Linked DNA regions of Homo sapiens. The protein of the gene in region 1 purifies or fractionates together with the protein of each later gene. This does not show direct contact. Each region holds a gene or a part of one and is shown on either strand. Other genes may lie near its edges.

The links.
Region 2: the proteins of NUP35 (region 1) and FOSL2 purify together in Homo sapiens (co-immunoprecipitation; one large-scale study listed by IntAct). This does not show direct contact.
Region 3: the proteins of NUP35 (region 1) and AAAS purify together in Homo sapiens (affinity purification with mass spectrometry; one large-scale study listed by BioGRID and IntAct). This does not show direct contact.
Region 4: the proteins of NUP35 (region 1) and NDC1 purify together in Homo sapiens (affinity purification with mass spectrometry; one large-scale study listed by BioGRID and IntAct). This does not show direct contact.
Region 5: the proteins of NUP35 (region 1) and CDK14 purify together in Homo sapiens (co-immunoprecipitation; one large-scale study listed by IntAct). This does not show direct contact.

Annotation. Positions count from the first base shown.
Region 1 is NC_000002.12:183,157,822-183,163,655, forward strand, and holds the end of NUP35 (nucleoporin NUP35), read left to right. Parts: intron 1-461; coding exon 462-590; intron 591-1,666; coding exon 1,667-1,831; intron 1,832-3,232; coding exon 3,233-3,310; 3' UTR 3,311-3,859; downstream 3,860-5,834. UniProt on the Homo sapiens protein: Functions as a component of the nuclear pore complex (NPC).
Region 2 is NC_000002.12:28,405,103-28,411,067, forward strand, and holds part of FOSL2 (fos-related antigen 2), read left to right. Parts: intron 1-3,656; coding exon 3,657-3,764; intron 3,765-5,370; coding exon of another isoform or gene 5,371-5,473; intron 5,474-5,965.
Region 3 is NC_000012.12:53,318,021-53,324,664, forward strand, and holds the start of AAAS (aladin), read right to left. Parts: upstream 3,591-6,644; 5' UTR 3,446-3,590; coding exon 3,323-3,445; intron 2,673-3,322; coding exon 2,545-2,672; intron 1-2,544. UniProt on the Homo sapiens protein: Plays a role in the normal development of the peripheral and central nervous system.
Region 4 is NC_000001.11:53,794,332-53,800,296, reverse strand, and holds part of NDC1 (nucleoporin NDC1), read left to right. Parts: intron 1-3,152; coding exon 3,153-3,398; intron 3,399-3,492; coding exon 3,493-3,608; intron 3,609-5,965. UniProt on the Homo sapiens protein: Component of the nuclear pore complex (NPC), which plays a key role in de novo assembly and insertion of NPC in the nuclear envelope.
Region 5 is NC_000007.14:90,601,644-90,607,608, forward strand, and holds part of CDK14 (cyclin-dependent kinase 14), read left to right. Parts: intron 1-2,574; coding exon 2,575-2,606; intron 2,607-5,360; exon of another isoform or gene 5,361-5,465; intron 5,466-5,965. UniProt on the Homo sapiens protein: Serine/threonine-protein kinase involved in the control of the eukaryotic cell cycle, whose activity is controlled by an associated cyclin.

The DNA.
Region 1 (5,834 bases):
GCTGCTTTTATTGGGGATAAAAGAAGTAGGAGGCAGTTCCTGAGCTTTTAGAGTTTTTAGAGCTTTATAGCTCTAAAATTTAAAAAATTATCTTACCTTGTGCTACAAGTTATAAGTAACAAATCCTTTTTTGTTGCTAGAGATTGACTTAACTCCTATACAAAATCAAATTGAGTAGTTTTAAATAACTTTATGGCAAGTGTTGCTTTGATCTCTTTACAATAAACATATTTTGAGAAGTATCTTACTTTCAGAGAATATGTACATGTTGATTGTAGAGAATTGAGAGATTGTTGAAGCTGTTCTAAATACGATTTTTGTTGAACTTTACAGCTTTTTACAAGGCATCAAATACGGAATGGAAGTAAATTTATCTTACCATGTTCCTATTTTCTAGTAGAATTCATTAGATGTAGATTTTATATATTTTCTATTTTAAGAGACAGTTTTATTCTTTGCAGATGTCTAATACAGGAAATTGGATGCATATTCGTTATCAATCTAAACTGCAGGCTCGGAAAGCCTTAAGCAAAGATGGGAGGATTTTTGGAGAATCCATCATGATTGGTGTAAAACCATGTATTGACAAAGTAAGTTATTGGTGATGTAGGCAAAGTAGCTTAATCTATATGAAGAGCACAAGACCAAGGATTGAAATTGGTCGTTGTGTCACTTGGTTTCACTGTGTCTGTTTTTCTTAGTTTGTAAAATGTGATGATGTTTATAGTACTCTTTGTGGTAAGCCGAAGGTATTTAATCATAGAGTTTAGAATTTAGAGGTAATCTGTCCTCACCTCTTCATTTTTCAGATAAAGAAACTGAGAGGGCTTAAGTAACTTGTCCAGAGTTGTTAAAGGTGAGGCCTAGATTTTAGGTCTCTTGACTACTAATCCATTCTCTTTCTTGTGCAAAGCGATACCAGATTCTTTAAAGTACTTAAATGGAATGGTACTATTTCAGAATGAATTAGTTCATATTAACATTAACTGATAGTTAACTTTTAAATGTCAAAGGTTTTCGTTTCAAAATATTTCTGTTTAAAACTATTTTAAAATTATTCTATATATACTCATTAAATAGTACAGAGTACAATTTAAACTGTTCTTTGTGGCTTGTTAAATCATTGTGAACATTCTTTAAGTATATGTGAACTTGTACTACATTCCAGGCATTGTGCTTGGTGCTAGTATACACACATTAATGAACAAAGCAAGATGTGGTTCCTATTCTTAAAATCTGTTATATCAGTGTAGTTATATAGTTATAATACTGTGCTGTAACAAATGTTTGCAGAGGCCAGAAGAATATTTGGGGTAACTAAGTGCTAAATAGCACTGGAGTTTGATTCTTTCCAATCCAGGTTTCCCTAAGAATTTTTTTGTCCTTGCTGATTTTTCATAGTGTTTTAGGAAATTCTTATTTTTGTGGTCTATAGTTGTATTGAGATTGTTTGAGGTCACTGAAGTGAGATTTCTGTCTGAGCATTCAATCTCAAATGCTACCTAAGAAGCAAATATTTTCTCAAGCCTAAAATTATTTGCAAGTTTAATTAGAGCAAATAAAGTATTTCATCTTTATCTTTTAATTAAATTTTCTAAGTAGGATGTAATACTGGATGATATGTATTATGTTTATAAACAAAGGAGTTATTTCTTTGTTTCTCCAGAGTGTTATGGAAAGCAGTGACAGATGTGCTTTATCATCTCCATCTTTAGCCTTTACACCACCAATCAAAACTCTAGGTACACCAACACAACCTGGAAGTACTCCTAGGATTTCTACCATGAGACCTCTTGCTACAGCATACAAAGCCTCTACTAGTGATTATCAGGTATTTTAAGGATTGGATAAAAAAAGATGTACTTTAATGGCTGAGTGCATAGCATGCTTAACTTTTTCATTGTATTGATTTGTATGCCATTAAATGTTTCCTGTGGAGGCTATTACCTTGATGAAACCTTTACGCTTTAAAAGTTTTCTGCTTTAAAGTTAACATCTTGGCCAATTGGAAAGTTATCATGAATTAAAAAAAAAAAATTATTTGCCATTCCTTTAAATTTTTTGAAAGTTGTTTTAGCTTTTTCTAAGTTATATTTGCATACATACGAAATGTATCCTGTGTGCATCTTTGACATGAGGGCGCATTAAAACTTTATTAAATTGATGACTAAATTGATGGTATCCAAAGTGCAGAACCTTAGGTTGGAGTAGCTTTGGTTATTTAAATGAAGACATTGACCAACCTCCAGACAGAAAAAAATTTCTCACTTCAAAAAAGCTTAAAGAAGTTAATTATGTTCTTTGAAGAATGGTAGAAGTATTATGATCTCATTCAGTATATTATTGTCTCCTACTGACTAGCCAAGTGTTCGAACTTAACCAGCTGCAGAAACAGGTCCTGAAACACACAGTACATGAAACACTTGTGCTTTAGTAGGGCAGATAGTGGTAGTTCAGTTTTTTGACTTCCTCTGAAATTTGGAGATTATTCTAGAACTGTTTTTTTCTTTAGGTTCTATTACTGTTATTTTAAATTTCCCATTCAGTGCAGCTTTTGTTATTCAATTTTTCTTTCTTTTGTTTTGAGACGGAATGTCTCTCTGTTACCTAGGCTGGAGTACAGTGGTGCTATCCCAGCTCACTGCAACCTCTGCCTCCTGGGTTCAGGTGATTCTCCTGCCTCAGCCTCCTGAGTAGATTACAGGCACGTGCCACCACGCCCAGCTAATTTTTTGTATTTTTAGTAGAGATGGGACCATGTTGGCCAGGGTGGTCTCAAACTTTTGACCTCAAGTAATCTGCCCACCTTGGCCTCCCAAAGTGCTGGGATTACAGACCTGAGCCACTGCGCCCAGCTATTCAATTTTCTAATTTAAGAAACAGATGTTATTTGCTTTGCCAAAGGAATAAAATTTTGGCATTCTTAAAAGCATAAGGATATTCTAAGTCCATATTTTAATTTTAAAAATATACAATTCAGGCCGGGCGCAGGGGCTCATGCCTGTAATCCCAGCACTTTGGCAGGCCGAGGCGGGCGGATCACGAGGTCAGGAGATCGAGACCATCCTGGCTAACACGGTGAAACCCCGTCTCTACTAAAAATACAAAAATTTACAATTTAGTGCTATAAATGCATTTTGGTGTTTCTCTTTTAAATGAGCAATTCTAGAATTGCCTATGACACTGAAGTAACAATAACCTAACCGTTTTTTTTGTGTGTGTTTTTTAATAGGTTATTTCTGACAGACAAACGCCAAAAAAAGATGAAAGTCTTGTATCCAAAGCAATGGAGTACATGTTTGGCTGGTAGTAGAACACCAAGAAGGAGGTTGCTACACTAAAACAGAGTTAGCAGAGTGCTGCTGGTTCCTTCGGTTAGTTATATAACTGTTCCTGCAGTATTGGATAGCTATCTCATACTTCTTTTAGAAAGAAGCCTTTTTCATTAAGGATACAACCTATTTGTAGCTCGCACTTTAAAAGATGCTTGAGATACATTTTAAAGAAAACTAAAAATCCCTGTAAATAGGATTTTGTGCTTTCTGTAACAGTGCATGCTTCAGCACAGAAAACTCAGCATTGATTATTGTAAATTAAATAACTGAAATTGTGGTGAGACGTCATAGTCTTCATGAGAACGTGGGGGTGAATTTCATGAAGGGGAACTATAGTTATTTCTACCGACACAAATATTATAATTAGCAATTTGAATTATGGTCTTTTAATTTAGATAGTATTTAATATTTTAATTATCCTTGTTTGTATATGTCCTGTCACAGAGTGTCCTCTTGGTGTATTCTAAAACGAGCATTCTTTTAAAAAACCTAAAGTTTCTTGATAATAAACATTGTCAATGATATGTGTATTAGTCTGTTTGCATTGCTATAAAGGAGTACCTGAGGCAGGATAATTTATTAAAAATAAGAGGTTTATTTGGCTCAGGGTTTAATTGGCTTGTAGCTGTACAAGAAGCATGATGCTTTACTTGTGGAGGAAAGTAAAGAAGAGTGAGCATATCACATGGTGAAAGAGAGGAAGAGAGCAGGAAGAAGGAAGTTCTAGACTCTTTTTAATAACCAGATCTCACATGAACTCATTACTGCAGGGAGGACACCAAGCCATTCATGAGGGATCTGCCCCCATGATCTAAACATCTCCCACTAGTCCCCACTTCCAACATCGGGGACCATATTTCAACATGAGATTTGAAGGGGACAGATATCCAAATGATATCAATATGTATTGAACATTTTTTGAAAGGGTGATTTATTATAAAAAGCTTTAAGTATTCATTGAAAGAGAAAATATGTATGAACCACTATATACCAGCTTTAATTACCATTAAATTTTGCCATACTTGTTTCTTTTCTTTCCCTTTTATTTTGTTTAAAGCACATCCCAGATAAGATGTCATTTTACTCTAAATACGTGAGGATATATCAAAAAAGAATATTTCTACATGGAATTACAATGTCAGTATCCCATTGAACATAATTAATACCTTTTTTTTTTTTTTTTGAGACAGAGTCTTGCTGTGTCACCCATACTGGAGTGCAGTGGTGCGATCTTGGCTCCCTGCAGCCTCTACTTCCTGGGCTCAAGTGATTCTTGTGCCTCAGCTTCCCAATTAGCTGGGACTACAGGCGTGTGCCACCATGCCTGGCTAATTTTTGTATTTTTAGTAGAGACGGGATTTCACCATGTTGGCCAGGTTGATATTGAACTCTTGAACTCAAGTGATTCACCTACCACGGCCTCCTAAAGAGCTGGGAAGTATTACTAAGTAATACTAAGGAATGTACTGGCATGAATGAAGATTCATTTATAAAGTATATTTTCATCTGAAAACTTTTACATTGAAGTCTTTTTCTTCCAGTTTAGGATTATATTTTATATCCTATTTCATAATGTGCAGAACTCAATTATTCAATATAGAACTGGCTACTAAATTCCATTTTAAAAGTCGTGCATTTGTATTTGAATTAATACACATTTTATTAAAAGGGTTGTTTATTGGAGGGGGTGTTTTATTTATTTGCATAGGCCTTTATGGACTGTGAAGTTTGCTTTTGGGCAAAAAATATTTGTTTGCTATATTTTGTTATTTCTCTTGGTATCATATCTTACCCATCTTTGTATCTGTCATTTATTTTAAAAGATCCAGGAAAATTTCAGAAAGCGAGCTGTCCTATTTTTGAACACTATATAAAAACAACAAAAATGGAATATCTGTGATGTTAGGAAAGTTACCCTGAACTAAGCCTCCTTTTAAAAGCTCAGAGAAGCTGACTTCAAAAAAAATAACGTGAAACTATAATCATGCAAGTTTGTTTAAAAAAAAAAAAGAGTATAAGGAAGAAAATAACATCCCTGTAGACATTGAAAGCACACCAGAAAGGCATGCCCATAAATGGATAGAAGCTATAGAGTAGTACTTAAAATTGAGTTTTAAGACATTTAGAAAATGATACAAGATATGAAAGAACAACAAAAATAAAATTGAAGAACTTGGGAAAATGTTAGTAATAGAGGAAAATCACTCATAAATTAAGACTAGAATAAACAACAGCTGATGAACAACAGATATGCCCTAAAAGAAATGAAAGATAAAAATGGAGGACTTTTAGAAATCAGAAAGAAAAGAGATAAAAAGGATTAGTAGGGGTATGACAAACTCTAGAGACAGAAAAAATGCAACATACAGAACAAAATCAAATGACTACTTTGATGAAAAAAATTTGGAACTACACATTGGAAGAGTAACCTGCCTACCTGAGATTATTATACTGGGACAACCAATGGCAATATACAAACTTTGGGTTTGACTAGACAAA
Region 2 (5,965 bases), about 150 Mb from region 1:
AGTACTCAAGAGGCTCATTGCCTGGATCAGCAGTAAGCCAGGGCAGTGCCAAGTTCCCTGGTCTTGGAAAGGGAAATCAGAATCATGCATAATTCCAGAAAGAATGGGATAAAGCCTCAGAGAGCCCCACCTCTCCCCCATGTCAGATGATACAAGCAAGGGCCAGACATACCTGTGTGTGGCCACTCGGCCAGTGAGTGGGGAAGTCTGGGCTAGATCCCAGTTCCCTGGACCCCCTATGCAGTATTCTTTCTCCAGGGCTATGCCACCCTGAGCCCAGGGAAGGGAAAAATACTTTAGCAGTGGAATCCCTTTTTCAAATGAATTGTTATCCTGGGAAACTATTTCAGTGACAGCCTTGGAACCCTTCCTCATTTCAACCACTGTCCATCTTCACTCTGTGATCCCCAGGGCCACAATGTTCCAATATACGGACCTTTCAAACATGGTTCCCAGTGGATCAGGGTAGATCCAGACCCCAGGATACTTGGAATTACAGGGATCACCACACCAAGAAACTGGAAGCTTTCTCAGGAGCTCTGCTCCTGCGAGGACAAAGCTGGGTCTTGTATCCACTACTTGTTGGTTTGTTCTGTTAATGGCAGAACCACGGTGCAGAGCCACTTGGGGAGGTGTGTCTGCTAGACACTATAATGGATTCACAGCTGCATGTTGGGCCTCTGCTGCTGGAGCAAGTGGCCAGTATCCTCCTCACAGTTGCTTTCTATAATTGCAGTTGTAAATATTGCAGTAGCCATGCTTGTAAGGACTTTTATAAATAGGCTTCCTTCACGGAATCCAAGGTGCAAAGCCTTATACTCACTGATGAGCTGGACTCTTCTGGGATATAAGTGATCCTGAGTGAGAGCCAGGCTTGCCAGGTACTCTTTGGGGCTAGCAGGACCACAAAGCCTGAGGATGTGCTGAATGCTCTCCATTCCCTTTTTTTTTTTTTTTTTTTTTTTCTTTTTGAGATGGAGTCCTGCTCTATCACTCAGGCTAGAATGCAGTGGCACGATCTCGGCTCACTACAACCTCCTCCACCTCCGCGGTTCAAGCAATTCTCCTGCCTCAGCCTCCTGAGTAGCTGGGATTACAGGCATGCACCACCATGCCTGGCTAATTTTTTTTGTACTTTTAGTAGAGATGGAATTTTGCCATGTTGGCTAGGCTGGTCTCGAACTCCTGACCTCAGGTGATCCACCCGCCTCAGCTTCTCAAAGTGTTGGGATTACAGGCGTGAGCCACCGCGCCCGGCCACGCTCTCCATTCTCTTCTGGGCCTACCTCACACCAAATTTAGAAATTTGTATCCAGAGGGACTTTGGAGACCATCTTTTCTCATTTTCCCTTTATACCCATTTTACAGACAAGGAAACGGAGACCCAGAAAGGTGAAGGGCCCTGTTAGAGTCTCACAGTGAATTAGTAGCAGAGCCAGCACTGGAACCCACTTCTCCTGACCTTTGGCCCTGTGGTTTTCCCACCACACCACCTAGGCGTGCCTCATACAATCTGTCTGGAGAGTTTCCTTCCTTTTTTGAGAGGGAGGGAGAGAACAAGGAGCATTGTATCCCACATCAGTTGGGAATTCACACATCTCCCAGCAGCTTTAAGGAAGCCTGGGCAGTGGCAGCCTAGAACTTTGGCTGTTCAGGTTGCCAGCCCTCAGGGCTTTGCTCTGAAGCTTACTCCGGCCGTCCCCAGCCTCCCCCAGCCTCCCTGCTAGGGAGGAGCCTGCCTCCGGAGCCGGCCTGGTGCCTCATAGGCCTCCTCTTGGGAGGTTCCCTCTGTGCCCTGTGGCGGCGACTCTGAGGAGGTGGGGAGGGGAGGGTGTGTGTGGCTTGTGGGTGGGTACATGGTGCTGCTGACACACTCAAGCTGGAACCATGTTGATCTCACCGCCCCTGAACACTTCCTATGTTGACAGCTCCCACAAGTTGCCCCACACCTCACCAGTCAGGGGAGAGACTTCTAGGTCAGTCAGGAGGCCAAAAGTTGTCCAGAAGCAGCCAAGGGGGAAGGAGGGCTTGAACTGGGTCAAGGCCAGCCTCCTTCTTTTCTGCCTCTCATTAGCGAGGGATCTAGGGGGCTTCCTGGGCCTTAAGGGGAGCCCTGGTGGCCCTTTCAGTGGTGAGCCCTAAACCCAGGCCTGCAGCAGGGCCATAAGGCTTTCTTGGCAATTCTGCTGGGCTCAAGACAAGACAGGTTTAGGAGCAGGAAGTATTCAGGGCCTTGGCCAAATGGCCTCATGACCTCAGCCGGGCTGTGGACTTCCCTCTGTGTGACAGGCATGGGATTGTCCTCTCTGGTGCTGTGATGATTGTCCTCTCTTTGCTGTTCAAAACATCACAGCAACAGACCTCCAGGGCTAAAGGGAGCATTGTGGGACTCTGACTTGGACCCAACCAGGACAGTGGCTCTTTCCTTCATGGGGTGACCTGAAGTCCAGGCAGTATCCCTCCTTGGGGTAGCTTCTCCCTGCTCCTCCAAAAGTAGCTTTGATTTTGCCCCCAGGTGTCCCGTGAGAGCTGACCCAGGTCTTATTCCCCTTGAGATCTTCTAAGCTCCTAGTGTAGCACCGGGCAGTTAGTAGGTGTGCAGTCAACGTCTGATAACTGAATGGGTGGGCTTTCCCTTTGTGTTGCTTTCTGCTTTGGCCCACAGCCGTCTCCTTGTGTCACCTCTGCCTGAGAGAGGCATTGGGGTCACAGCTCTGCAGGGCTCTGTAGAACCAGAGCATTTGCCCTGCTCAGTAGAGCAGAGTTCATGCTTTCCGGTATGAGTGACAGATTCCTAACTGTCTCACTGGAAGAAGCTAGATCCTAAGCTCTTTGCAGGGGAATCTTCCTTTGTTTGGTTCGCAGATAAATCCCAAGCCCGTAGAACTTCATCTTGCACATGGAACCAGGTGCTCACTTGTTGAGTGGACAGATATGGTGGGCAGCAGGATTTTACCTGCTGGGGGCTCCTCTTCCTTTTGCATGTCCTGTCCAACTTAGCACTGTACCAGGCATGTGGGGGAGTACCTGGGGTTGAACCGTGAGCAGCTGGCACCCTGGGATTGGCAGAGGAAATCGGGAGTGGAGTGGCACTCTTGGCCCTCCCATCAGCAACATAACATTCCCCCCTGGGTGGTTCTTAACCTGTGTGGGGACTCCAGGCCCAGCTACTTAACAAAATGGGGATAATGAGGCTTGCAGAGCAGGCAGAGTGATGGGAGGAGAAATTAGCCAGGGTTTGGAAGAAGCTGCTTAAGTGGGTGGGGCCACGCCTGGCTGGCAGGAGGGGACTCTTGGAGAAGCATCCCCAGCTCCTTCTCTCTGGCCTGAGCACTGAATCAGGGCTGATGTGATAGGTGCTGCCATCATGCCTGGGCCAGTGAATCTCTGACCCATTGCTGTCCTGTTTAAACATGGACTTTAAACTTGGACATCACCTTCCGGGGCAGATTCAGCTCAAAAGAGCCCTCCCAGGCAGCCAGACATCAGGGATCCACATGTTCTGGGGCCTCTGAGTCCAGCCATGCTCCTCTTGCCCTTCCTTCTCCTTTCTCCATTTCCAGAAGGGCTTCTTGCCTTACTTAAAATACAGTTTTTAAAAAATACTGTGAACCATTGTCTCTGTTCTAACCATGATCCTTGGCTTTGGCCTCTAGCTGTCTCCTGAAGAGGAGGAGAAGCGTCGCATCCGGCGGGAGAGGAACAAGCTGGCTGCAGCCAAGTGCCGGAACCGACGCCGGGAGCTGACAGAGAAGCTGCAGGCGGTGAGGAACTCTGCGTAGGGTGGGAGCACCTCTGGGTGGGCTGGAGTGAGAGCCCCGGGGGTCCTGATCCTCTCTCCCACAGCTGTCTCCTTACCCACAAATGCCCTACAGATGAGTCAGTGGAGATAGAGCTTTCCTTCCTTTGGACACATGGGTCAGCATTGTGTTGATTGAAAAGAGAGAGAGAGAGGGAGGTGGCGTTTAGCACCAGCCAGGGCCCAGAGGGAAGAAATGAACAACCTTCTGTGGGGGTGCTAGCCACGGTTTTTACGCAGCACCTGAGTGTTCTCTGCTCACAGAACTGTGGGGGCTCCTGGGTGAGGGATGATGGAGGGTGGGAGCCAGGGCAGGTCCAGACCTGCCCCATCCAGGGCTGCTTCCCGAGGTTCCAGCCACTCCCATGCCTGCCGCCATCAGGAGTGGCCCAGCCTGGCCTAAGCACTCTGGGTTGGGCCAGGGAGAAGTCTTGATGGAGATAGGTCACGTGGCAGCAGGGTTGTATTTTCTTGGGGTTTTCTCATTTCCTTTATGGGCAGGCGGGTTCCCCACCTCTATCATGAACTCAGAGCTGTGGCCATGGTACCGCGTGCTGCTCTTGTGAGTCACTCTCCCGTGCCGCCTAATTGCCCAGACCTGGGGACCCGCAGCCCTGCCCTTCCCTCTGTTAAGCTTGACCTGACCAACGTCACGTAACTCCCTTCAGAGCCTGGCCCTGCAGGAAGGGCCGTGTGCTGTGTGGAGGAAGCCCCGAGCCAGGGTTGACTCTCCCCAGTGGAATGCTTTCAGAGTGAGGAGATGAGAGAGACTCTGTCAGTGGTCCTCACAGTGACTGCCCAGGATGGGGCTTTGGAAAACATCCCCTCACACTTTTTTTGTTATTATAATTTTTTTGAGATGGAGTTTCGCTCTTGTCGCCCAGGCTGGAGTGCAGTGGGACGATCTCAGCTCACTGCAACCTCTGCCTCTTGGGTTCAAGCCATTCTCCTGCCTCAGCCTCCCAACTAGCGGGGATTACAGGTGCCTGCCACCATGCCCGGCTAATTTTTGTATTTTTAATAGAGACAGGGTTTCACCATGTTGGCTAGGCTGGTCTCGAACTCCTGACCTCGGGTGATCTGCCTGCCTTGGCCTCTCAGAGTGCTGGGATTACAGGCGTGAGCCACCACGCCTGGCCCATCCCCTCACTTGAGTTAATGTTTCCAGGTACCATCCACCCACTTAGGCTTGTCTTTCTCTGTCCTGCAGCCCTCACTCTGGGGTGTTGAATGAATTGAATTGCGTGAATTCTGTGATGCCTGTAGTAATGGCCCTCGGAGGTGTTAGAGCCGGGGAGGATGAGTGGGAATTCTTCATTCCCAGGTGAGGCAGATCCACAATCCACTTCCTCAGCGGGCCCTCCCACCACTAACCTTTCTGTGATTGGCACTTCAAGGAGCTGTGCCCCATGTGGCGCTCCTCACCACCCGCCCCGGAATAGCCCTGCCCCCTGAGGCTCCTCTACTTTCCTTCCCTCCTCCCAGAGGCCTCACACCCTACTCCCCTGCCTCCCCCACCTCCCCCGCCCTCTGACCCAGCCACCCAGGCCCCTGAGCCACATCCTCCACAGGAAGCCTCTCAGAAGCTCATGACGTTCGTCAGACCCTTGAGACAGACGGAAACTGTTTTTCACTCCGGAATATGCTGTCCTCTGCTGAACGAAGCCCTTGCCCGTATGTCCTCACTGATGAACAGGAATCCATGTTAGGGAAAACGTGGGGAGGAGGCTGGTGACACACACCTCTTCCCCTCCCACAGCGGCCCCTCCACGTGCACTTGCTCGCTTCTGCTTCTCTGGCTGGGGATGAAAGAAGGGGGCTGAGGTCCTTGCGGGGTGACCCTGGCATCCTCACAGGCCCTCTCGGGCTGTCACGTTACTTCTGTGTCAAGCGTGGTGGCTGAACCAAATGTTCTCTGAGGGTTCTGGGAGTCCTGAAATATGTGCTTAAGAAATTGGAGCAAAAGGCCAGGCGCCGTGGCTCATGCCTGTAATCCCAGCACTTTGGGAGGCTGAGGCGGGTGGATCACCTGAGGTCAGAAGTTCAAGACCAGCCTGGTCGATGTGGTGAAACCCCATCTCTATGAAAAATACAAAATTAGCCGGGTGTGGTGGCAGGTGCCTGTAGTCTCAGCTACTCGGGAGGCTGAGACTGGAGAATAGCTTG
Region 3 (6,644 bases), on another chromosome or scaffold:
ATCACTGCATTTATTTTTATTTTATTGAGACAGGGTCTTGCTCTGTGACCCAGGCTGGAGTGCAATATCACCATCACGGCTCGCTGCAGCCTCAATCTCCTGAGCTCAGGTATTCTTGCCTCGGCCTCCCGAGGAGCTGAGACTACGGGTGCACACCATCATGCCCAGCTAATTTTTAAATTTTTTGTAGAGATGGGGTTTCAGTGTGTGTGTGTGTGTGTGTGCGTGTGTGTGTGTGTGTGTGTGTGTGTGTTAAGACGGAGTCTCACTCTGTCACCCAGGCTGGAGTGCAGTGGTGTGAACTCGGCTCACTGCAACCTCTACCTCCTGGGTGCAAGCAATTCTTGCACCTCAGCCTCCTGAGTAATTAGGATTACACACGGAGTTTCACCACATTGGCCAGGCTGGTCTCGAACTCCTGACCTCAAGTGATACACCCGCCTTGGCCTCCCAAAGTGCTGGGATTACAGGCATGAGCTTCCGCGCCCAGACTATCACTGCATTTTTAGATGAGAGAACAAAGGTGTGAAGAGGCTAATTAATATGAACAAGGTAATCTAAGTAGAAAGTAGCAGTCAGGATTCAACCATCTATCTACCCCAGAACCTATACTCAAACCACTTTTTCCTGAATGAGTAATATGATCATTCCTTAAAGTGAACCATCCAGAGAAGCAGATTTGGAGAGAGAAATAAAGAGACTGGATTTGAGCATGCTGAATATATGAAGTCTGCGAAATATTCAAGCAGGATAATTTGGCAAACACGTGAACACCAGGTCTGATGCATCAACTGGAAATCTAGCCCCAAGAACACCAACATTTAAGGGACATCAGGAAGAGGAGCCACCAAAAACCCTGAGAAGCAGCAGCCACAGAAGTAGGAGACAAGGAGCCTGGGAATGAATGGCTTTTCAACAAACTGATATTCAACTTCACACACACAGGCATGCCCATTAAACTGTACTGAAGTACCAAAGATCAAAGCTTGACAGCACATGTGTTGGAAAACAGGCACTCCCATACACTGCTGGTGGGACCATATACATGTACCATTTTGACAGAGGGCTATTTGGAACAGCTCACAAAATTACAGATGAACATACCCTCTGAGCCAGCAACTTAATTTCTAGGAATTTATCCTACAAATGGTAATGGTATTAATAAAAATATTAAGTAACCCTTTTTTTTTTTTTGAGACAAGGTCTCACTCAGTGCCACTGCACTGGCACAATCTTGGCTCACTACAACCTCCACCTCCCAGGCTCAAGTGATCCTCCTATACATAAGCCTCCCAAGTAGCTGGGAATAAAGGTGCATGCCACCATACCCAGCTAATTTTTGTACTTTTCTTGTAGAGAAAAGAACATGGTTTCGCCATGTTCCCCAGGCTAGTCTCAAACTACTAAGCTCAAGCAATCTGCTGGCCTCAGCCTACCAAAGCGCTGGGATTATAGGCGTGAGTCACTGTGCCTGGCATAAATAACCCTTAAAGGAATTAATATGTGCCATTAATAGGTCCAGGTGCAGTAGCTGTAATCTCAGCACTTTGGGAGGCCAAGGCAGGCCTGAGGTCAGGAGGCCAGACCACCCTGGCCAACATGGTGAAATCTCATCTCTACTAAAATACAAAAAGTTAGCTGGGCGTGGTGGCACATGCCTATAGTACCAGCTACTCGGGAGGCTGAGGCAGGGGAACTGCTTGAACCAGAGAGGCGGAGGCTGCAGTGAGCCGAGATCGCACCTCTGCACTCCAGCCTGGCAACACAGCAAGACTCCGTCTCAAAAAAAAAAAAAAAAAAAAAAAGAAAAAGAAAATGAGCCGGGCGCGGTGGCTCACGCCTGTAATCCCAGCACTTTGGGAGGCCAAGGCGGGCACATCATCTGAGGTCGGAAGTTCAAGACCAGCCTGACCAACATGGAGAAACCCTGTCTCTACTAAAAATACAAAATTAGCTGGGCGTGGTGGCACATGCCTGTAATCCTAGCTACTCGGGAGACTGAGGCAGAAGAATCGCTTGAACCTGGGAGGTGGAAGTTGCAGTGAGCTGAGCACGCCACTGCACTCCAGCCTGGGCAACAAGAGTGAAACTCCATCTCAAAAAAAAAAAAGAAAATGAAACCAGGTAGTGTAGCTCCACTCCTACAAGTGCAAAGTGGATGACCTATGTAGGAGATTATTCAGTGCAACCTTATATCTGATCTTGCTGAGCTTCAGGTAAAAGCTCAGAAGTGGTAATGCCATGAGGTGGGGGCAGGGAGCAGGTTCACCTAATCAAGCCAGAAAGCAAGGCAAGTTACTAGAGATGAAATGGAAGTACTTTTTCCATAGTGTTCCTGGGAAGGGCAAGGAAGGGAACCTGACATTTATTGAGCATTTGAGTTCTATAATAAGGACTAAAAATTTCATATGATTTAGGATATACAGCTCTCGTGGAGACAGCCTGAATAAAAGTCTTTTGAAGAACACCCCAAGGTAAAGGGGTGTTGACTCATTTTCCAGGATCTGCAGACTGTGACCCAGGAAACCCTTTGCCATGCCTCACCAAATGTTGATGCATCTCTTCCACACTTGCTCCCGGTGATGGATGAAGGCAGTTCTTGTGCCATGGTCCAGCCTTCCAGGGGTCTTTAGGGGATCCTTTGTCAGTTGTAGGACAGGAAGATTGATCCACTATAGCACAAAAGTGAGGAGTGTGACGGTGATTCAGTCTCTTCCCAAATCTTTAATTCCGTGCCATCTCCAACCCACCGCTGGGCTAAGTATAAGAGATTCCAGAGGTCTGTTTCCCATTTCCACAAAGCTAACACTTGTGAGAATGGGAAACAAGTCTTAGCTCCCGTATCTGTGCAACTAGAATAATATTTCATAGGGTTGCTGTGATTATGAAACCATATGACATTTTTAGAAAACACCTGACTCAGCCTCTTTCTTACATAGCAAACGCTCAATAAATGTCAGTTTCCCTTCCTTGTCCTTCCCAGGAACACCATGGAAAAAAGTTCCATGTTGTATCCTTCTGATCCTCCCCAGATACTGTCCCCAACTTTTAGATAGTTCTCCCGCATCCTCACACTCCCTAGATTCTCCCTCATTCTCTCCATTCCCTCTAGGCCTCCTCCACAGCTCCTTAACCGTTCCCCCGTTATACTCCAATCCCAGTCCTAAAACAGATTCCAGCCCTTCTAGCCTCCTGCCGGGGCCAAGCTGTTTCCACTCCGCCAGACTCTGTGACCCTGCCCCTGTCACACTGCCTCCTTTCCCCAGTAGTCCCCGACTCCGCCCCCATGCCTGTAGGTCCCCTCCCTCCTCGCCCTGGCCACCTGGCCCCGGAAGTCGGGGGGCGGGCTCTCATAGCTACTGCCCGTCACCAGCTCGTTATTGTGCTCATATAGGGTGACTTGACCCCGAGGCGGTGGAGGAGGGAACAACCCCAGAGAGCACATCTTGCCGGTTCGCAGGACGTCTGCAGTCGGCAAACTCCTGGCCGGAACGGCACAGACCGCACTCCCGCAACTCGGTTCCCGGGCTAGATTCGTATGCGGACGGGTACCGCAAGGGACAAACGGCGAGGCGGAACTCAACGGAAGTGAAGAAAAGACTAACGGGAAAGAAGGACGAGTACGCGGTCCCGGGACAGACCTCCAAAGCTTCTTCCTGCGCCCCCTGGCGGCCGGAGGGGGAGCAGCGCGGACACGTCCCCCGGCCAACCGTTGGTTACCAGGCTGGAGTGGGGTTTTTTTCTGTTGTTTTCCATGAGACTACTGTTTTTCCCAGCTCCGAATTCCCGAACACCTTCTCCCACTCACTATCTTAGCGCTTAGAAAGCCCGAAATAAGCCACATTCAGGGAAGTACCAAATTAATCCTCCCAGGCCTGTGGATCACCCAGAGGAAAATACAGGCTATGTCACAGGCAGCTGGCTGGAAAGCTGAGGGAAAAGCCTCAGAGAGGAGGAACAGTGCTGCACCCACACGGTTAGGCGTCCTGGAAAGGGAGGTGGGGACGGTTGGAAAACTAACATTTCCTGCCAGGCGCGGTGGCTCACGCCTGTAATCCCAGCACTTTGGGAGGTCGAGGTGGGTGGATCATCTGAAAGGAGTTCGCAGACTAGCCTGGCCAACATGCTGAAAACCCCATCTATACTAAAAATACAAAAATTAGTCGGGCGTGGTGGCGGGCACCTGTAATCCCAGCTAATCGGGAGGCTGAGGCAGGAGAATCTCTTGAACTCCGGAGGGGGAGGTTGCAGTGAGCCAAGATCGCACCATTGCACTCCAGCCTGGGTAACAAGAGGGAAACTTCGTCTCAAAAAGGAAAACTTTATTTTATTTTATTTTTTTGAGAGACAGGGTCTCGCTCTATTGCCCAGGATGAAGGCAGTGGTGCTATCTCAGCTCACTGCAACCTCTGCCTCCCCGGTTCAAGCGATTATCCTGCCTCAACCTCTGGAGTAGCTGGGATTACAGGCATGCTTCACCACGCCCAGCTAAGTTTGTATTTTTAGTAGAGACGAGGTTTTACCATGTTGGCCAGGCTGGTCTCAAACTCCTGACCTCAAGTGATCTGCCTGCTTTGGCCTCCCAAATTGCTGGGATTACAGGCCTGAGCCACCTTGCCGGGCTGCAAAACTATTTCCTGAGCACTTGTTACGATAAGTGCTTTTATAATCTTTACAACCCCATAAGGTGGGTGCTGTTCTGTCACCATGAGGAAAGTGAGTCACAGAGAGATTGGACCTAGATACACCCAAACCAGTTATTCTCACTTAAGAATAAAAGTAAGGCTGGGTGTGGTAGCTCACACCTGTAATCCCAGCACTTTGGGAGGCCGAGGCTGATCTCTTGAGCCCAGGAGTTCAAGACCAGCTTGGGCAAAATAGCAAGACCCTGTATCTACAAAAAATTCAAAAGTTAGCCAGCGTGGTGGTGGCAAGCGTCTTTAGTCCAGCTACTCAGAAGGCTGAGATAGGAGAATCCAGACTACAATGATCCAAGATAGCACCACTGCACTCCAGCCTGGGTCAAAGAGCGAGACCCTGTCAAGCAAGCCAGAGAGAAAGAGCCGGGCGCGGTGGCTCACGCCTGTAATCCCAGCACTTTGGGAAGCTGAGGTGGGCTGATCCCCTGAGGTCGGGATTTCGAGACCAGCCTGACCAACATGGAGAAACCCCATCTCTACTAAAAAATACAAAACCAGCCAGGCATTGTGGTGCATGCCTGTAATCCCAGCTACTCGGGAGGCTGAGGCAGGAGAATCCCTTGAACCTGGAAGGCGGAGGTTGCAGTGAGCAGAGATCGCGCCACTGCACTCCATCCAACCTGGGCAACAAGAGCGAAACTCCGTCTCAAAAAAAAAAAAAAACAAAAAACAAAACAAAACAAAAAAAAATGGGAGGGAAGGGAGAGGGAGAAAGAAAGGAAAGAAAGAAAGAGAATGGGGGCCCCTCTTACAGACTTTGGAAAAAACATTGAATTCTTTGAGTCTCACTTTTCTCATTTGCAGTGTCCTAATTATTTCATATGGTTGTTTTCCATACAAAATAATAAAATGAAGCTATTTAATAAATTTTAAAGTGCTAAACAAATGTCAGAGGTTAATAGCTATAACTGTGCCATCAACTAGGTGACCTTGGTCAGAGTTCATTAACAAATGTTAAGTGATTTGAAGATGTAGAAGGCTGTCCCCACTCCCAAGAGCTACCAGTCTCATTGAATAATCTAGGGGGCATTTAGTTCTAGTATTCTGGATTCCGTGTCTGCCCTTCTTTTTCACCTGAAAAATTCCCCCCAAGAGAGTTATTACCAGGTCAGAAAACAAAGGGCTCCAGAGTCTCCTGAAAATGCACTTCACCTGAGAAGGCAAGTGGATCTCCTCTAATCTAGTACTTCTCAACTGTTAAGGGACATAGGAATCACCTGAGCATCTCCTAAGGTGGCGCTCAGAGGCTATAGTTCCAAAGAATCCCCAGCTGATACTGCACAGACCACATTTTAAGTAGCAAGGCTCTAACCTAGCGGTCCCCAACTTTTTGGCACCAGGTTTAGTGGAAGACAGTTTTTCCAGGGGGAGCGGGGGAGGGAATGGTTTGGGGATGAAACTGTTACACCTGAGATCATCAGGCATTAGTTGGATTCTCATAAAAAGCGGGCAACCTAGGTCCTTCACGTGCGCAGTTCACAACAGAGTTCGCGCTACTATGAGAATCTAATGCCGCTGATCTGACAGGAGGCGGAGCTCAGCTTGCTCAGCTCGTCTCCGGCTGTGCGGTTCCTTTACAGGCCACCGACACGACGGGCCGTGGCGCGACCCCTGCTCTAACCTTTTCCCATAGCCCCATTTAATTTCCTATGTGAGTTCACCGTCACCTGGGAAGTCACAGAAAGCTTGAAGAACATAAGGTATACACTGGGGATGGTTTGGGGAACCTGGCTGGGAAAGCCTCCCTGAGAAGGGGAAGTGGGCAGGTTTGAGGGAGAGGAAGTCGGTGACTGACAGATTAGTGGAGAGCACTGAGGACCCACGATAGTTTCCGTTTGTACCTTAGTCGTAACACCATCCAAACCCAGATACCCCTAGGAAAAATCACTCCGGCCTGCAACTTGCATCCTTCGATGAAACCTCGATTTTCACCATCAGGTTATA
Region 4 (5,965 bases), on another chromosome or scaffold:
GTGAGGTGTATATTTTTAGGGAAAATTGATCCAACATATAGCATCTTATATTGAACCAAGAAAATGACGTGGGTATCATTGTAGATTGAAAAAATTAAGCCCAAAACATCACGTTGTACACTCTAAGTATATGCAGTTTTTCATTGGTTAATTTGAAACAAATTAAGTTCAGTGTGGTGGTAGCATTAAAAACACTACCAAAATGATGGCTATTAAATAGGAGACTTCAGCTTACTCTAGCACAAAGCCAGGTGAATTTTTGCAGACAATATCTGTTGCTGTTCTGGTTGCAGTAGTCCAGAGACAAAAAGTTGCTGTCCCAGAGAAGAGCAGCTGAGACGACTGGGTGATTTGGAAGTGGGGCATAATGTTAGTACCCCTTCCATTTAAAAGACAAAAGCTGAGAGGAAGAAGTAGAGGTGGAGGAACCTGTCTTGTTCACCAAATCCCTTAGGTAGAAGACACCTATGAATGTAAGACTGATAAAAGGACTTAATGTTCCATGTGTTTTGGAGCCAGGCATTTAGTGAAAATGGATGAAACTGGCTGGGTGAGGATGGTGGTGAACCTGTGAGCACAGGCTTCCTCTGAAGGGGGAAGCTGTTGGTTAGCCCTGCTTCATTGTTCCCATATGGGACTTTGGATCCCATATGTGAACTTCCGGTCTTTTTAAAAAAGAGAAGCCTGAAATCTAAACAAATTTTGAGGTGAAATCTTTCAGTTGTTAAACATTGGCAACTAATCTTGATATTTAAAAATCACTATATAGATCAAAGCAAACTCATCTAGTTTCAAAATCAGTACTCTGGTGGGGTCATAGCCCCAAAACAAATAGATTACATATGAAAAATGATTTAAATAAATTAACACACATCAGATTTTGAAAGGTTTGAGAGTGTTTCAGATGTTATCAGCTTTCAGATCAGCATTCCTCTATTCAACAAATACTTATTGAATTCCTACTGCATACCAAACAATGTGCTAGAAGCCAGGGAATCACAGATGGAAAACACTCTTGGATCTGACCTTTTAGTGGAAGGCACACAAATAATGATACAATATAACTGCCAAAAGGAAATCTGTCCAAAAGGAGTCCGACTGGATAAGATGATGTTTGATAATGAAAGGAAGCCTTGTTTGCAACAAAAAAAGTTTAGATTTTATTCTATAGAGATATGGAGCCATTGGAGAATTTTGAATAGGCTAGTTCCATCAAATTAGCGTTGGAAAGATCATTGTAATTCTGGGTTGGGTAGATCATGAGTCTGACCAAATATGGAGCATTCATTATTGTAAGTTTTTGTCATATACCATCACTCAGCCAAAATTTGTCTCATATTTTGAAGAATAATTGTAAAACTCTTAAAAACTCCAGTCTTAATTTTTAAATTGATTTTTCAAAGATTTCTAATTTCCATTAACCTTTAAAAAGTCATATAATGGGCCAGGTGTGGTGGCTTACACCTGTAATTCCAGCACTTTGGGAGGCCGAAGCAGGTGGATCATTTGAGGTCAGGAGTTTGAGACCAGCCTGGCCAATATGGCGAAACGCCGTCTTTACTAAAAATATAAAAATTAGCTGGCTGTGGTGTTGCACACTTATAGTCCCAGCAACTCAGGAGGCTGAGGCAGGAGAATTGCTTGAACTCGGGAGGTGGAGGTTGCAGTGAGCTGAGATCATGCCACTGCACTCCAGTCTGGGTGACAGAGTGAGACTCCTTCTTAAGGAGAAAAAAAAAAAAAAAGAAAAGTCATATAATGAAAATTTGGTACTTGGGATGTTTAATTTCTTATATTTCTTATGGTGGTTTTATTAAGAAGATGGAATCCAGCTGGGCGAGGTGGCTCACATCTGTAATTCCAGCATTTTGGGAGGCCGAGGTGGGCGGATCATGAGGTCAGGAGGTCAAAACCATCTGGCCAACATGGTGAAACCCTGTCTCTACTAAAAATACAAAAATTAGCTGGATGTGGTTGTGCATGCCTGTTATCCTAGCTACTCGGGAGGCTGAGGCAGGAGATTTCACTTGAACCAGGGAGTCGGAGGTTGCAGTGAGCCAAGATTGCGCCATAGCACTCCAGCCTGGCCACAGAGTGAGACTCTATCTCAAAATAATAATAATAATAATAATAATAATAATAATAATAATAATAATAAAAAGAAGATGGAATCCTAATGCAATGTGTTTGTTTTTGTGGCTTGTGCTGGAGTGACAAGAAAAGTTCCTTTTGTTTTTGTATAACAGACTCTATTACTAAATTGGAGAGTCATAAGATGACTTTTGAAAAAGCTGTTTACAGATCAGATTTATAGATATTCTGGGCAAATTAGCCTTTGGTGTGACTTTTGTTAACTTGAAAGAACTTTCAGGCCAGGTGTGGTGGCTCATGCCTATAATTCTAGCACTTTGGGAGGCCAGTGCAGGAGGATTACTTGAGCCCAGGAGTTCAAGACCAACCTGGGAAACATGGCGAATCTGTCTCTACAAAAAATAAAAAAATTAGCCAGGCATGGTAGTATGTGCCTGTGTCCTAGCTACTCAGGAAGCTGAGGTGGGAGGATCGCTGGAGCCCCAGAAGTTGAGGCTGCAGTGAGCCGAGATTACACCACTGCACTCCAATCTGGGCTACAGAGCAAGATCCTGACTCAAAGAAAAGAAAAGGAAAGAAAAAGAAAAGGAAAGGAAAAAACTGGGGAAAATGGGGTAAGGTTAATATTTTTTTCCTGTATATGTTCACAATATAGATTTGGTATGTTCAGTCAAGTAATACTTAAAATAGTAATGCAGTAAAACTGGATAGATTCTAATGCAGTAATTAAAATTGCCAATTAGAAATAAAATGTGAATTGATGAGTTCATTCAAAATTGCTTAGAGTTAGATAAATTGACGTTGAAGATGAAGATATTCATGGGGGGGGAAAAAGAGAGACTATATCGATCTGACAGAAGAAGATGTATAAAGCTCTTTGAGTGGAGCTTGAATGCAGTAGTAAAATCGAATCTTGAGACTATAATCATAAATGGAAACAATCTACTGAGCTTTGGGTAAATGCGTTAAACAAAAATTTGGTATGTGTAGAATTTGAAAGCGTTGCTGCTAGCCTGCTTGGATCAGGTTGCCTCTTCAGCACTGGATCTGTTGTTTTACAGAAGAAACTGCTTTTCAGACACCAAAATCTAGCCAGATGCCTCGGCCTTCAGTGCCACCATTAGTTAAAACATCACTGTTTTCTTCAAAATTATCTACACCTGATGTTGTGAGCCCATTTGGGACCCCATTTGGCTCTAGTGTAATGAATCGGATGGCTGGAATTTTTGATGTAAACACCTGCTATGGGTCACCGCAAAGTCCTCAGCTAATAAGAAGGGGGCCAAGATTGTGGACATCAGCTTCTGGTGAGAATTATATATTTTTTAAGATTTTAAATGTCATGTTGCAGAGGATCAGACAGCCTAAGTTCTTATCTTGCCTTTTCTTTTTTAAAAATAGATCAGCAAATGACTGAATTTTCTAATCCTTCTCCATCTACCTCTATTAGTGCTGAGGGTAAGACAATGAGACAACCCAGTGTGATTTATTCATGGATTCAGAATAAACGTGAACAGGTAGGATGATATGGTTATAGGATTTATATTTGCATGTAAAATTGAGAACATTAAGGATCTCACATGAGTAAGTCATCAGGAATAAGAAGCTTTTTTTTTTTTTTTTTTATGCTTCGTGTATTGACTCAAATGAAACAGCCAATATTTGACTGGTTTGAGCTATACACATTGTAATTTCATATGACTTGACCTGATAACTTCATGTAAGAAATATTTGAGTTCTTTATATATCCAAGGTGTGCTTTTAGGCACTGGGAAAAAAGCAAACAAAACAGAGTCCTTGCCCATGTAATATTTACATTCGAGTGAGGGGAAATCAGTGAGTAAGCAAATGTATTATATTCTGTTTCTCTGAAATATAAAATATCATTAATTATAAGACTTATGTGCTATTAAGAAAAAAGATGCCTTAACCCATGACGTGCTATTGACTGTAAGATGCATCTCAACAGGTCATATTCAAGATATGGAAAACATGCATAAGAAGGAAGAAATTTGATATAAGTCTTAACTAGAAAAACAGAGCAAGGAAGACAGAGAGTTCCTAAGGGAGAGGGTATCATTTTATGTGGAGTGATAAGGGGAAGTCTCATTGATAAGGCAATGATTGATCAGAGACCTGAAGGGAGAGCTGGGAGCAGCCCAGTGCATCTGAGATGGGAATGGCCTTGGCTTGTGTGAAGAACAATGTGGATACCAGTGTGGCTGGAGCAGAGTGAGTGAGGGGAGAGTGGTAAGTGGGTGATAAGATCAGAAAGGTAGCAGGCACCCAGGGCTCATTGGCTGTAGTAAAGACTGGCTTCATCTCTGAGTGGGATGGAAAGTCACCGTATGGTCTTGCCCACAAGAATGATATGATGTAACTTATATTTTGAAAGTGCTGCTCTAGGGGCTGTGTTGGGACTAAACTCTTGCAAGGTAGGCATGTAAGCCCAGAGACGGTGTTAAGGTGTTAAGTAATCTAGTGGGAGATGGTGGTATCTGGGACCAGAGTGGTAGTGGTGGGGGCTGTAAGATGTGGTCAAGGTCTAGGTATGTATTTTAAGTTAGATGGAATAGGATTAGCTTATGGTTTGGTTGTGGTGTATACTAGAAAGAGTCAGTGTTCACTGGTAAGGTTTTTGGCCTGAAGATCTGGAATAATATAGTTGCAATTTATTGAGTTGGAATTTACTGATGATTCTGGAGAAGGAGATTTGATAGAGGTGAGGGGAGGGAAATCAGGAGTTTGATTTTGGACAAGCCAATTTTGAGATACCTATGAGACAACCAGGTGAAAATACTTAGTAAGAAATTAGGCATATAGCGGTAGTGTAGGGGAAAGTTCTGGGCTAGAAATGTAACTTTGGAAGTTTTCAGAGTATAGATAGTATTCAAAGCATGAGACTCGATGCAAACTCTTGAATGTAAATACAGAAGAAAAGAGATATCCAAGAAAGGGGCCCTCCAATGGCTAAAAGTTTGGGAGATAAAGAATAGCAACAGAGACTGAGGTGGGTAGAAATCCAAGAAAAGAAAGAGTTTCAAGGAGGAGAAGGTGGGAGTGTCAGATGCTGCTGATGGGTAGCATGGGGCGGGAACTAAGAATTAACTGTTGAGCTAGAAATGCGGAGGTCACTGAGTCCTTGACAAGAGCTGTTGGCTGGAGTAGTGGGGACAAAAAAATGCATGAGTTCAGGAGAGATTGGTAGACGAATTGGAGACCACAAGAAAAACCACATTTTTCAAGGAATTTGTTGTAAGTGGAACAGAAAAATGGGGCAATAGCTGGGAGGAATTGAGGGGTCAAGGAACTTTTTTAAAAATTTTGAGATGGGTTCTTGGTCTGTCTGTTGCTCAGGCTGGAGTGCAGTGGTATGATCATGGCTACACTGCAGCCTTGAACTCCCGGGCTCAAGTGATCCTCCCACCTCAGCCTCCTGAGTAGCTGGGACTACAGGTGCCTGCCACCATGCCTGCCTAATTTTTTTAATTTTTATTTTTTGTAGAGACACAGTCTCTATGTTGCCCAGGCTGATCTCAAACTCTTGGCCTCAAGCAGTCATCCTGCCTGAGCCTCATAAAGTGTTGGAATTACAGGCGCGAGCCACCACGCCCAGTCATGTTTTTATTTTTTAAGATGGGAGAAATTATAACATGTTTGCTGATGGAATGACTGATTAATAGGGAATGAATGGTTAAAGGCATTTCATAAACTTCGGGATCCCATACGGCTCTATATGCCATTAGTACTGCCGTGTCACTTTCTACCCAACCAGACACGTGCTGCTTGCTGCAGCCTTCTGACTAGTCATGCAGCTTTGGGTGAGAGTATGGTAGGAGCAGATTCACTTTTAAGTTAGTTGGGTTAGCTTTTA
Region 5 (5,965 bases), on another chromosome or scaffold:
GAAGGAAATAGTCCAGTTTGGTTGTTCAAGGAATTCCAGTTTTCTGCTGTCTTCATTTCTCAACTTGAGGGTCTTCATTCCATATTTGCAGTTCCCTAAGGGATAGTATCTTTTTTTTTGGCGGCAGAGGAACAGGGTCTCACTCTGTCGCCCAGGCTGGAGTGCAGTGGCGCAATCTTGCTCACTGCAACCTCTGCCTCCCAGGCTCAAGTGATCCTCCCACCTCAGCCTCCCGAATAGCTGGAACCACAGGGCACCACCACCACGCTTGGCTAATTTTATGTATGTATGTATGTATGTATGTATGTATGTATGTATGTATGTATGTATGTGGTATTGTTTTTGTAGAGACAGGGATTCCCCCTGTTGCCCAGGCTGGTCTCAAACTCCTGAGCTCTGGCGACCCATCCGCCTCAGCCTTCCAAAGTGCTGGGATTACAGGTGTGAGCCACTGCACCTGGTGGGGTAGTGTCAACTGTAGTTCTTATTGGATGCTTTGCTTAAGAAAACACATGGCTAAATTTCCAGAACTTTTATAATGTCCAAAATAAAGACAGTATATTTAAAAGTTTGTGCCGTGAATTGTAAGTTTGCTGCTGTAGCTTTGCATCTTGCATGGCAGCCACATAGTGCGCGTGTTCCATTAATCTTTGTTAAATGAGCTAGGTATGAGGCTGTATGGCAATTTGCTTATGTTAGACTTTGTATTTGAAATCAATGGGCTATTAATTTCTTATTCCTAAAAGTTTAGTTTTTCAGATGAAGCAACTTGTCTCTATTTAGAATTACATTACTAATGTTTTGTAAAGGACTCATTAGTCAAAGTATGTTAATTAAAGGACACGCCTTGGGTTGAGGGAGTAGACAGTATGGTAATATTGTTGACTGGTATTTATACAGAGCCTTGTAGCCTAGAAGTTAAATTCTAGTGAAAATGCAGTCATTAGGAATTAGCTAGGATCTTAATATGGTTCTATCAAAACAGATTATTTTAGATTTAATGTAGGTTATTTTAGTTTTAATGTAGGTTAAGTTAAATACATAATTAAAACATGTGCAAGTAATTGAATGCAAGATAAGCCATTCACAACAAAGGACTATCTTTTTATTTTCCATTCACTTTCAGAAGAAATGGTTATCCAATAAAGAAAGATTAGTTTATTAGGCAAAAGGGAAAAATAAGAAACTTTTAGAAACGTTTTATTTCCCTCAGCCTACCTGCATCCCCCTTAACTCACCGCAATCACATTCTTCTTGAAAACACAAATATATGAAACAGAGAAAATAACCTTTTCACGATTGTTAGAGTATGTATCCTAAGCTTTTCTATGATAGCTTCAGTTTAGGCACATTACTTTTCTCAGAGCTTAATTGCCAGAATAATTTGCTTTTCATTGCTTTTGTCAGAACAAAGCTTTCCAATAGCTACCCAAGTGCTTCTATCCAGACTAAATCATGTATAAAGCAGCAAACACCTATGCATTGTTCCGTAAATTTGAAACATTTCTCCAGCTAGTAGTTTCAGATAAATTAGCTATTTAATGCATTCTTCTTAATATGAAACATTCTAAGTAATTGTAAAATGTAAGGAACTAGATGTTTGCCAACTGTAGGTGAAATTCTTCTTCTATGTTGGGTGAAAAAATTCCAGTTCTAAAGCTATGAACAGTCACGCATACTTGATGGTGGTCCCGCAAGTTTACAATACTGTATTTTTACTGTACATTTTTCTATGTTTAGATACACAAATACTTGCCATTGTGTTACAGTTGCCTATAGTATTTGGTACAGTAACATGCTGTATAGGTTTGTAGCCCAGGAGTAATAGGCTATACCATATAGCCTAGGTGTGTAGTAGGTGATACCATCTAGGTTTGTATAAGTACACTCTGTGACATTTGCACAATGAAATTGCCTAAGGGTGCATTTCTGAGAATGTATCCCAGTTGTTAAGTGACACATGTCTGGATTTAAAGTAAATTTGAAGTATTTTCTGGTTCCTATAAAATATTCTGAATGTATTGTTTTCTTTTGAAATACTTTGTTATAAAATTTATCATGTCGAAATGTTTAAATTATGTCTCTTACTCTGCAATGCTTGTTTTAGCAGGCTTAGTCTTTCATCAACACACTTACACTTCACTTAGTATGAAAATGTCATTCAGGGCTCTGTGCAAAGAAGGTGTCATCCTAACAATTGGTGATATCTTCTCAAAACCCAGGAGTTTAAGGGGAAATTTCTTTAAGATTACTTCGTGATTCTTTTATACTTTCATTGAAACATGTTCCAACTAAAGAAGAGATAGGGAACAGTTATGTGTGCTTCTTTCTAATATCTGGGAGGATAGTTCTATTTGCATATTTATAAAAAATATTTCAAAAGATGCATGCTGTGCAATTCTCTTTCATTTGCAGTTTTCATATTTGTATCATAACATTGTTATTCAGGTTGGGGTACAATTTACTTTCTGAAATGAAAACACCATACTGCCTTGTTTTTTTTTCTGTTTTCTATAACTTAGTCTCTTTGGAATTTTTCACAATAACTGTTTCCTTTTCCTTCTTATTTTATAGCTTTGAAGAAAGATGACACCACCTTTGATGAGGTAGGTTAAATTTCTTTATCTAATGTTAGATGTATTTAATGACTACCAGGTAAAGTCAGTAGCTGCCAACTTTGTACCTGGAAACAAAAAAAATGCCTTTAAAACGCGAGATAACATCTGTTTATTTCATTGCATTATTATATTTTCAAATTTTAAATAATCGTTCAAATGAGTTTTGGTAGCAAGTAACAGAAATATGTCTTTTTCAATTAATAAATGAGCTAATTAGAAGACACATGCAGGCCTTTGTGTTGTTGCCTTCTTGCTAGTGGTAGTGCTTGAGACACGCAGAGTGATGTACGTGCTTAAGGCAAGTCTGGAGCTGTTGGTAAGTTGGGCACCATGGCTCACCATGGCTCCTTGCAGACCTCAGCTGAATCAGGGTGTGATGTGTTGTCGATGCCACATATTGTCTGTCAGTCTCCCAAGGGAGGAGCTGACTTTTCCTGTTCTAGTTTTCCTATTCTTTGTATATCAGATCCGTCTTGATCTACTTGCCACAAAGTAGTGTAAAATACTGTTCAAGTAAGGCAGAGAGTTCATATGTAATTAAATAGCATCCTGAATGTGATTTTAAAATTGCAGTCATTCCTGAATTTTTGTAGTATAAGTAGGAATCACCAGAGAAATAGTGAATGTTTACAAAATATTTTCACAGTGCCAAAGAGTGAAATGTTTCATTGTAACCATCCTGAGCCACACTCATTGATCTGTGTTGTAAACTGGGCCACATGTGTATATAGATTGTGTTTTTATATAGGAACATGGGTGTTATCTATACAGTGTGCTTACCCTAAAGCCTGATGAAAGCATAAATCAGTTTGGTTTGGTGGTTTGGTTTGTTTTAATAGTTACATATTCCATGAAATATGCTACCTGTCTTCCCTCTGCTGCAGTGCTTCAGTGAGGAAAGGGCATTTGTGCTCATGGAAAGTCCCCTTGGCCATGTGGCTGGCTGTGGTGCATGGCAGGTCTGCTCAGAGAGAACCTGCTCCAGGCTGGGATTTCTGGATGGGGCCACCGTCATTTGGCTGTCACGGTCTGCTGCTTCATCTGCTGCACCTGTTCTCTTTTTCCTGGGCTGAGCTTTACAAAGCTGTGTGTCCCTGGACTCCAAAGCAACTTTCCCTGCCAGCATTCCTGTGACATCCTCTAAAAAACTTAATTCTTCTAGGCTTGAAGCAATAGAGGAGTCTTTTCTTCTTCCTTCATAGTGGGCAATAATGGAGTTTTCCTCTAAACATGTATTTCTGGAATTTCGGTAGTGTTGTTATTGAGATATTTTTCAGGAGAGTGTTTTCTTTCTTTTCAGGAGCAATCAATATGAGAATATTTGGTACCATTTTTCTCTTTGTAAAGAAAGTTTCCCCTCTAATTATGTAGATAATTTAAGCTTACATAAAAAGAGAGAAATAAGGAAAAGGAGAAAGAAAAAATCTCATAAATCCTGTTACCCCGATACAACAACTGTTGAATGTTCTTGCTTCTTTCTCCGTGTTTTAAAAAAAGCAGCCCATTATTATATCCCGCTTTTTTCTTTGATATGATAACATTATATTTTCCCATGTTTTTACAAACTCTTCCTAATCATCATTAGGCATTTCGAAAACCTTTTTTCTTGCTTAAACACTGTTGTTAGTGATTAGCTTTAAAAAGCACCTGAGGCTGGAGCCCAGCTGAAGGTTAAAGATGTGTCAAACCTGTAACTACTCCCTCTCTCTGTTATTCTGAAACCTCTGTATAGTCAAAGGTCTGGAGTTTGTAATTTGGGTCAAAATCATCCTTAGCTTTTGCAAAGTGGCTTCCTTCCTCTGCCACAAGAGATTGTAAACTATCACAAATCAGTAAATCACAGAATGCTCTACTTGGAAGATCCATTGGAAATAATAATTTTCCCACTCCATCATTACACAGATGAAGAAATTGAGATCCAGAAGGGGCAAGTCATTTCCAGCTAATGAAGGAAAGACTCAAGGCCAGAAAATCTTGGGAGATAGTGGTAATGAAGGCATGCCGGGGTATAATCCCCAATTCAACTACCCTCTGTTTGGGCATTTGACTTATTAATTTCATATCCTTTGTAAAATAGAGATAATAATAGTATCTTTCCTTTAAGGGTTAAGATAATTAAATAAGGTAATGCATATGAAGGTTTCAGAATAATGGCTCACAAAAAGTGAATAGCTCATAATTGGTGTTATCATCTTCATTGCCTTCATCATCACCATCATCATCGTCATTGATGCTTTCACTTTGACATCCACCTTCTGTAGTTGGAAGGGCTACAGAGTAGATAGAAGGATTAAAAATGAAGAATTACAGCTATGAGGAGAGTTAATTTCAGATATTCCTCTAACATTTCACCTAAAGCTTCATGTGATGACTTGCATATTAAAACTGAGAAAATATTATCTAAAACCCACCATTGTTTAGATTCCGTATGGGGGTGATTGGATTCACTTTTTAATCCCTGAGTGTGTTGCTCGTAGTTAACTTTCAGTACGTATCTATTGAATGTGAGTAAATATCTATTGTAGAGGAGTAGAGAGAGTGATGAATTAGGTGTTAGGCAATGTGGATTCTCATCTGCCACTTTCTAGTTATTTGGGCAGGTCGTTTAACTTACCCCGGCCATGACATTCTCATTTGTAAAATCAGTTGAACTATGATCTTCAAGTTGCCTCTTAGCTCTAAATGTAGGATTCTAAATAATGTAACAACCAACATAAGATTACAATTTTTTTTCATGTTTTATGTCAGACAGGTAATGTACTGACCTTGTAGTAAGGTTTGAGGGAGGCACATCTTACACATGAGGTGAAACCCCAATCATCACGCTTATGAACTATACAAAAGGATCAAAATGACAATTTTATCACATCAGAAAAGAGCACTAAAACTCTGCTTATGTACATAGGAACTGAGTTCTTCTGTGATCATTTTCAGATTATAATAGTAGAAATTTTTTTGAACGCTTGTTTTTTACCTTCTCTCTCCTGGAGCTGGGGAACTCTACAGTCCATTGGAATCAATTCAGATTTTAGTCTTAAAACTTTGAGGGTTGGGTCAGCTTCTTAGGTATGCAATAAGGTGTGGCAACTCTCCTTAGTATTTATGAGCTGGAAGGCTCCTTATTTCAAGGAGTGGCCTCTTCCAGAGAGTGCCTGAGCTGGAGTTTGGTAACAACTCCCTGATTCATGTAGAGGATGCCTCTAGAGTATGTGTCAAATGTTTGACCTTGAACACAGCAGAAAAAGAAATACAGACTTATTTAATCATAGACTGAAATGCCATGATTTCAGTCTAATCTGCTAATTTTCAAAACCAGACTGGAATTATATTCAGGAACTATGCTTGTT